Regions from separate parts of the Homo sapiens genome. Here region 1 is linked to region 2. Evidence: fine-mapped expression QTL. A gene starts in region 2. The other region holds a variant in brackets. All regions are shown on one strand. Distances are from middle to middle.

Region 1 (4,389 bases), 28 kb after region 2:
TTTTCCTCAAGAACTACCCTCAGGTTGTATTTGCTGGTCTTCACCTGGCTTCCACTCCCACCCTCCACGGAAATGGCATTTGCAGAGATCACCAGTGCCCCTCCTGCTTCCAGACCCCAGGGCCATTCTCCTTTGCATGTTTTCCTGGACTTCCATGCTGGTGGGTACTCCGTCCTCCTCCAAACTCCAGCCTTCTTGGCTCCTGTGGCTCTGTGCTGTCTGGATTTTCCACCTATTTGCTTTTTTTTATAGCCATTTTCACTTTTCTTCCTGGATTCCTTGTCTTCTTTCCATTCTTTAAATTGTGTTTACGCCCAGTGTTCTGCCCTGCTTTCTTCTTTTCCTTCTATACACTCACTGGGTGATTTGCAGCCACTTTCATGATTTCAACTCCTGCTTAGGATCAGCGACTGCTCTTAGGCTCAGATATCCCCTAACTGCATGGCTGCAATTCAGTGGGGTGTGCTGCCACTTTCAGTGACCCTGGACACAATGGAATGGTCCAGGATTGGGCACTTGATGAAAGTCAGGCCAATCTCAGTTCTTCCCAGGCAGGGTTTCTTTTTACTTTTAACTGAGGCTAAGGAAGGAAGTAAGGCTTTCTCTGGGAATAAAACTCCTAAGATGGAAAACGTGAGAGGTGTCAGTGGCCATTTTCCCTCCTCCTGGAGAAAGCTGTCTCTAGGGTGAGAGAATAGAGCCCAGAGAGGACAAGGAAGAGAGAACCCAGGGGCTGTTTGATTGCCCGGTTCCAGTTGACCCCGACACCCAACAGGATCCTTGCCTTTCCCATGGATTTTCTTTGAATGATGGGTGATAGCCTCGTATTCCTCTAATGTATGTCCCCTTTTGCCTGAGTGTGTTCTAGGTAGGTTTATAGAACCGTGCCTTATCCTCTGGATAAATGATGACTGAACAGGCACAACGATGAGATACAGGCACGCAGTGTGTACTGAGAATCTATCACAGGCCCCGGTGCTTGGCTTGGAGCTGCAGGGAAGCCTTCTAAGGCATTTTTTTTTAATCCTGAAAGCACTGGCTTTCATTTTCCTTCTTATCTCCAGAGATGCCTCATGCTTTCAGCCTCATGAGACACAAACATCAATCAACATTAATCCTGAGATACCGCTCTGGGCGAGATATGACAGGATGCACTTTATCAACCTCTTAATGTAGTGTATGTTTCAGGTAGAAGCCAGACAGGACAGATTTTCCCCAATCTGTCAATTCCTACTACTGCTTCTTTTTGGAAAATCAACTCTGAATCCCACTCCCACAAAAAATCCGGGGGTTTTTAACTTGAAATCTTGGAGGTGAAAGGGTGCCAAGAAATTAGCTGATCCAAGGAAGATGGCCATGATGGAAAAAAGGGGACAATTTGCACCATAGGATCTCAATTTCAGAAAAAAGATACACACCCAGGATAAACAGGAAAGAATTGTCACCAGAATGTTTGCAAAAAGATAATGAAGTTGTGGTGATACTTGTTTTCTCTCTTCCGGATCTTGCAAAATTTCTATAGTCAATATATGTTACATTTGAATCAGGAAACAAAAAATAAATAAAAAAATTAAAGTTATTCTCTTTCTTAAGCTGGGTGGGGGCACATAGGTGTGCATTTTATTATTCTTTATAACTTACAGGTCGTATATACTCTTTGTAGAAAATATTTAATACTCTAATTTTTTTGGTTGCAGAAACTCTTGTTGAAATAAAACGTAATCTGGAGGCCAGGCACAGTGGCTCACGCCTGTAATCCCAGCACTTTGGGAGGCTGAGGTGTGTGTTTCACTTGAGGCCAGGAGTTCAAAACTAGCCTGGCCAACATGGTGAAGCCCCGTCTCTACTAAAAATAAAATGTAATCTGGAAGCTGCATTAAGTGATGCAGGGGTGGTCCTGGGGGCCGGCTCCCTGGTTCTCCCCTCCAATGCCCAGAGACAACCCTATGCACAACCAGGACCTCAGGTGAGAACAGTGACGTCTGGTGCCCCAGGTGAGTGGTGA[A/G]CTGGGACTAGAATCCGGTCCTTCTAACATCTTGCCCAGCTTTTCCCCCATTCGTTGCCTCTCTTCACTCAAGTTTCCTTCTTGATTTTTCCTTCTTTAAACTCATCAATGCTCAAGGCCTAAGGGATAAAACTAATGCTACATTCCTCTTCCCTGATGTTCTGTATTCACTCATTTTCTAGGATTTGTCCTTAAAATTTGAGTTTTTATTTTGATAGATGGCGAATGGCAGGAAAGGAGGAGGAAGAGGGTGACGGAGAGGTGAGGAGAGAGGGCTAGGGGCTGCCTGCAACTTCAGCCTGGTGGCTTGGTTGCCTGGTGGCCCCAACGGTGGGTTCTTGGATCAAGTGTGGTGATGTTTTCTGGCTGCTGCTGGGTCAGATGGGAGCCAACTGTTCCCAGAGGCTAAAACCACAAACAGGACAGTCCATGGAGGCTCCGTGCCCCTTAGGGACCTAGAATCCTGACGGGTCTAGCTGAGGGCTCTTGGCATGGCTGGCCAGGAAGAGGGAACTTGTTTCTGATTCTCAGCAGGCAGAATCCTGTGGATGAAGTTATTCTGTCTCTATCGATATGAGCTCTGGAGCAGCTCAGCTCTGGAGCTGTGAAAGCCTGGCACACGCACACCCACCCTCGCTTCCCTCTCTCATCAGCCATCACTCTTCACTCAGTACTCAGTGGCTGTGATAGCCCAGGAGGCCCAAGCTCAGCCCCATCCTTCTCAACTCACTTTTCCAGGCACACCTCCAACTGATTGGAGGGGACAAAAGTACATTTTTCCATCCCTGGGAAATGCAACGTGCCAGGCACTATCACCCACTGGATGCTAGGTTTCAGCTTCAGGCGAGGCAGTGAGAACCCTCCTCAGCTGCTACCCTCCCCTGCCCTCCCCTCTCCCTCCTTCCCCATGGGATCTGTAGGGCCCGCAGCTCTGCATTGGCTTTGCTCAGACACACCAGCCTCAGGGTGCAGCTGCTATGCACTGGGGGACTGCACTGCCTCTCCTGTCACTGTGAGTCCTGGCATCTTAGTTCTCAAACATGCAGTTGAGTCAAGAAGAATGATGGCCATTCCTTCATCTCCTGACTTTTAGGATCTGGGCTAAGCTAGGACACAAACCAGGCTCAGAAATGAGGCTTTGGCTCCTGGCACCCACAGCTCTGGATTTGCAGGACAGATAAGACACGGAGCCTGCCCCGGAGCTCTTTCAGCCAGCTTCCCCACAGACAGCAGTTGGAGCTGCTGGGCCAGGCTTTGCTGGGTCCATTTAGCTTGGGGCATCTGAGAGGGGACGGTGGTGTCCTTTATCTCCAGGACTCCCACAGAGCCAGTGGACTCTGCAGCTGGGCTCTGGGTGCCTTGTGGCCGTCCTTGGGAGGTTGCCACTTGACCAAGGGAAGGAGATGGAGAGACAGCCTGAGATTTGGGGTGTGTAGAAGCTTCTCCCTCTGATTGCCCTGAATTTAGGTGAGATTTCAGTGGCATTGGAAATCTAAACTTAGGTTTGGAAAGGAGTTTCAGGCCAGGTGCGGTGGCTCATGCCTGTAACCCCAGCACTTTGGGAGGCCAAGGCAGGCTGATCACCTGAGGTCAGGAATTCGAGATCAGCTTGGCCAACATGGCAAAACTCCATCTCTACTAAACACACACACACACACACACACACACACACACACACATCAACTGGGCATGGTTGTGGGCACCTGTAATCCCAGCTACTTGGGAGGCTGAGGCAGGAGAATCGCTTGAACCTGGGAGGTGAAGATCGCAGTGAGCTGAGATTGCACCACTGCACTCCAGCCTGGGCGACAGAGTGAGACTCCGTCTCTGAAAAATAGAAAAGACTGGAGTTTCAGAGTGTGGTGGCCCTCCTGGGAGGACCCAGGGATGTGTGATTGTGCCATACAGTTTATGCATCTGGATAATAATAATAATACCTACTTTGTTTGACTTGCACGGGATTTAAGCAAAGTAATAACAGAAAGCATCTAAAGTGGTCTCTGAAACAAAGTAAACTCAGTAATTCTTAGCAATTATTATGTCTCTGGCCATGGCTGGCAGACCCTGGACCTGAACCTGGGTAGCAAATGTCACACTGCCCTGCTCTTGTTCTTTTTCTTTTTCTTTTGTGACAGAGTCTCTCTCTGTTGCTCAGGCTGGAGTGCAGTGGTGTGATCTTGGCTCACTGCAACTGCCACCTCACAGGTTCACGCGATTCTCCTGCCTCAGTCTCCTGAGTAGCTGGGACTACAGGTGCCTGCCACCATGCCCAGCTAATTTTTGTATTTTTAGTAGAGACAGGGTTTCACATATTGGCCAGGCTGGTCTCAAACTCCCGACCTTGTGATCCACCCACCTCGGCCTCCCAAAGTGCTGGGATTACA
Region 2 (4,389 bases):
TCCAGGGGCTGAAAGGGGGTGTCTGCCTCATCTGGACTGTGTACCAGACTTTATTCCCTTCCAAAGCTTACACTGCTTCTCACTGTGAGCTTGGGGAAGGTGTTACCAGTTCCTGACTCTCCCCTAGGGGTACTGCTCTAATAAATGACAGTTCCGATTTTTAATAAACAGAGTTGCTGGGAGAGGGTATGAATGCAAAATTCAAACAGGCGAGGGAGGAAGAAGAGGAGGAGAAATGTTTACTTTGCCTTTTTTTTTTTTTTTGAGACAGAGTCTTGCTTTGTTGCCCAGGCTGGAGTGCAGTGGTGCGATCTCGGCTCACTGCAACCTCAGCCTTCCGGGTTCAAGTGATTCTCCTGCCTCAGCCTCCCAAGTAGCTGGGGTTACAGGCGCCTGCCACCACGCCCAGCTAATTTTTGTATTTTTACTAGAGACAGAGTTTCCTCATGCTGGCCAGGCTGATCTTGAACTCCTGACCTCAGGTGATCTGCCTGCCTTGGACTCCCAAAGTGCTGGGATTACAGGACTAAGCCACTGCACCCAGCCTGCTTTGCTTTTAAAAGGCTCATAACAAAAGCTAAGGGGAGACAGAGAACAAAAACGGATGATCACTGGCCCTGCCCACAGCTCATGAGAGGAAGGGTGCGTATGTGTGCATGTGCAGGCATGTGTGTGTGTGTGTGTGTGTGTGTCTGTGTGTCTGTGTGTGTGGTGGCCAGGGGCAGAAGGCTAGCAAGTAAGAGAAAATTTGAACTTAAGCACAGCTTGGTTTCAGATACCTAAAAGCATGTGCATTTGCAAAAGCACAAATGATTAAATAGCATCCTCATGTTGATGGGTAGAAACTGTCTGCTAATAAGCAAATGAGAAGGTGCTAATAAGCAAATGAAAAGGCGCTGATAAGCAAATGAGAAGGGAGGGAGCTGACTTAGAAATCAAGGTCAGGAACCATGTGCTGGGAGAATTCTTGAGCCCTGCACGTCTCAAGTTATTTTCACTGCACCACTCAAGGCCTTGCTCCCTTTAGGAGCAGGGTGAGGCCTGGTGTCATCAGTTAGGGGTTAATATTTTCCAGATCTGTTTGCTTGGAGCTGTCTCTCTTGGCCCCAGAAAACCTCCTCTGGTTAAGAGATAGGAGGATGTCCAGGGCCACTCCCAGCTGGGAACTACATTGCCTGAGTGAGTTAACAAGGAGCTGTGATCTCCATTCGCACTCGCAGTCTCTACAGACTGTTTCTCTTGCCTGAGAAGAGGAGGAAGGAAGCAAGAAGGGTATTGGGATAAATTTAGAGCCACTTCAAATGCCCACTTCAACAATTCTCCAGCCTGGTGCTCACCTCTGGCTGTTTACTTCCACCCAGTAAGGCGGAGTTTCCTGCCCTGAAACTGAAGGACGTCCCTCCCTAGAACAGCTTATAAGAGGAAACATTAGGGCAGCAACACAAGTGAGTCTCAGACATTTTCTCACAAAAGGCCCCAGGGACCACAAATTAAAGGAAAGGATGCTTAGGAGAGGAAAGCCTGGAGAGTTTGGAAAACGACTTTGAGGCGCTGGACTGAGTCACCATCATTTCCTGCTGAGGTTATCCTAAGAGAACTAGCAGGCACCACCACTCCCCACACCAGCTGCCTGCTCTGGGATCTGGGCAGGACCGACCTATCAGCCAAAGGAGTCCCAGACGGCACCAGATTGCCAGTGATGTAATATACACTTCATTTGTTTATCTGTAAGCCTTCAGAGCAAGCAAGAGAGGAAAACAAGCCAGTGGAAATATTATACAGGGAGCAGCTAGCTTTTCTTGGCTTTCTTGTTTGTTCCTGAGCTGACAATAGAAATCTTTGAGAATTGGAACTAGTGCGCTTTGAAAACAAAACTCTCTTCACTTACAGGGCATGGATTTTTCTGCTAATTTGGATTCTTTTGAGGACAAATTTGCATACCATTATCATTATCATTGTTTCATCGAAAAAAAAATAAAAGAAGCACCTGTGGGATAGAGAATGAGAGAGGAACACAGAATGGCGAGTATGGTCTTTTGCTGTTTTATTTGTCTTTCTCTTGTACAATTTTCTGGCAGGGAAGGAGAACACTGTTGTATCCAGACCTTTCCCTAGGATTAATAGGTGACAGTCCCATGGGGAGGGAGCTAGCTGATGTGTGGAACTCTGTCTCTCATGGATGTTAACTTTATTTTTTATTTTTTAATTTTAATTTTTTTTGTGGGGGGACAGAGTCTCACTCTGTCACCCAGGCTGGAGTGCAATGGTGTGATCTCAGCTCACTGCAACTTCTGCTTCCTGGGTTCAAGCGATTCTCCTGCCTCTGCCTCCTGAGTAGCTGGGATTTCAGGCGTGCACCACCACGGCTGACTAATTTTTGTATTTTTAGTAGAGACGAGTTTCACCATGTTGGCCAAGCTGGTCTCGAATTCCTGACCTCATGATCCACCTGCCTCAGCCTCCCAAAGTGCTGGGATTACAGGTGTGAGCCACCGTGCCAAGCCTGGAGGTTAACTTTAATCAGAAGCCATAAGTGAGAGAGGACATTTCAAATTCAGTCAGACATGACCTTTTCTTCCTGGGTCACTCCCTTGCAGCTACCCGTATCTTTCTTAGGACACTTCTGGAATTATATAAAAGTATAGCCATTTGTGTGCATGCCTTCTAGGCCACAGGCTTAGTGAAGGTGGGAATCATTTGCGTCTATATTCTCGACAATGACCAGCCTAGTTCTTTACGCTTTGGAAATGTCCAATGCATGTTTGCTGAATGAATCGATGAGGCATGCGGACTTTTGAGGGACACAGAAATTACAAGATGGGTAATAGAAGAAGGAAGTGAAGAATAAGTGCAGGAGATGGGGGAGAGTGGCAGATATTACCTGCTTGCCTTTTCCTTTCACCCAGAAGAGGTGTTAGAGCAGTCGGAGGAAATGGACATACTTTGGAAGACAGAGACCTGGTAATCCCTTTTCACCCAAGAAGAACCAAGCCCTGGATGAATGGATGAGCAGCTCACGTTTTTCTGCCCCCCACCCCCAGTCTTTCTGAGACTGACTTTGTCCTAGGAATTGTTCGTCCCTCTGGAAGCTAGTCTGGTATGTGGATGTTCCTTAGAGCCCTGGTGATAGGGAATTAGGAAGTAAGTGCTTGAACTGAAGCCCTTTTGTCCTAATTCACTGGTATCTGGGGCAAAAGCTTGCCCTCTCTGTGAAAATGAAATGAAAATCTTTTCATTTTCTGGGAGCTCAAGGTCAGACCCTGGCACAGTAGGGACCCAATCCGTGGGCTGTTCCTGAACCCCTACCCCAGACCATTGCCCTGGATGGCTCTTGAAGCTGGTGGCAAGAGAGAACTGAGAGTTCTCTAAGGAAAAGAGCAGCCAGGTTGCTCCTTTGTTTTAAATTATTTAGCTGCACCAAATTTTCAGATTTGTGGCAACAACAACTCTATTTAAAAACTCCAGGCACATGATGGATGAGCTCAATGTTTTCAGTCAGTTCCCAGCTTCCAGCCCACCCTACGGGAATCTTCTAAGAGTTACTTGGGCTTGCCTGGGTCAGCCTCCAACTATTGGGACCAGCTAAAGTGCAAGAGCTACACAATGCCTATCATGATATTTGGCGTATGTTTTTCATATAAATGAATTTCATCAAGTCCCATACACCACCTCCAAGAGAAAAAAGATACTCAACTTAGGAAGTCAGAACTGGGATGTTTGCATAGAAGTCACGCTTTTTGTATAGATGGGTTGTGTGAGTTTATTTCCATGGACTTCTGCCTGTGAAATAGGTAGTGTGTGTGTTTCTGAGATTCTCTTGTATGAAGCTGCTGCTCTTCTCACAAAGCTCATCATTTTAGGTGAGACTGAATGTGACACCCATTGAAGCTGCTTTGGAGCCCAAGATGCATGCCCTAATACAACCACTTTTTTTTTTTTTTCGGATGGAGTCTCACTCTGTCACCAGGCTGAAGTGCAGTGGTGTGATCTTGGTTCACTGCAACCTCTGCCTCCCAGGTTAAAGCGATTCTCCTGCCTCAGCCTCCTGAGTAGCTGGGACTGCAGGTGCATGCCACCACCCCCGGCTAATTTTTGTATTTTTAGTAGAAATGGGGTTTCACCATGTTGGCCAGGATGGTCTCGATCTCCTGACCTCATGATTCATCCTCCTTGGCCTCCCAAAGTGCTGGGAGCCACTGCGCCCAGCCAATACAACCACTTTTATTGAATGCTTCCTATATTCCAGAGATTTTATATATACGCGTTACATTATATTCGCTAACATCCTTGCTCAAAAATAATAAGGCAGGTATTATCATTCCTATTTTATAGCTAAGAAAATTAAGACTCACAGATGTTGCTCAAAGTCACATCAAGGTTTGGCTTATT

Evidence for each region. PIP is the estimated chance that this variant, and not a neighbour inherited with it, causes the effect.
Region 1: its variant is the best candidate, but not a certain one, in a credible set for the expression of RAB37-AS1 in whole blood (INTERVAL, PIP 0.63).

The regions. Positions count from the first base shown.
Region 1 is chr17:74,646,784-74,651,172 of GRCh38, reverse strand. No RefSeq gene overlaps it. Among named protein-coding and RNA genes, the nearest start is that of CD300E, 25 kb to the right of the region's middle. The variant A/G (reference allele first, on the strand shown) is at 2,006.
Region 2 is chr17:74,674,986-74,679,374 of GRCh38, reverse strand. It overlaps RAB37-AS1 (RAB37 antisense RNA 1), which reads left to right and starts at 1,765. Exons shown (of 2, transcript XR_007065904.1): 1 at 1,765-2,026; 2 at 2,907-4,389. It also overlaps a transcript of RAB37 not described here.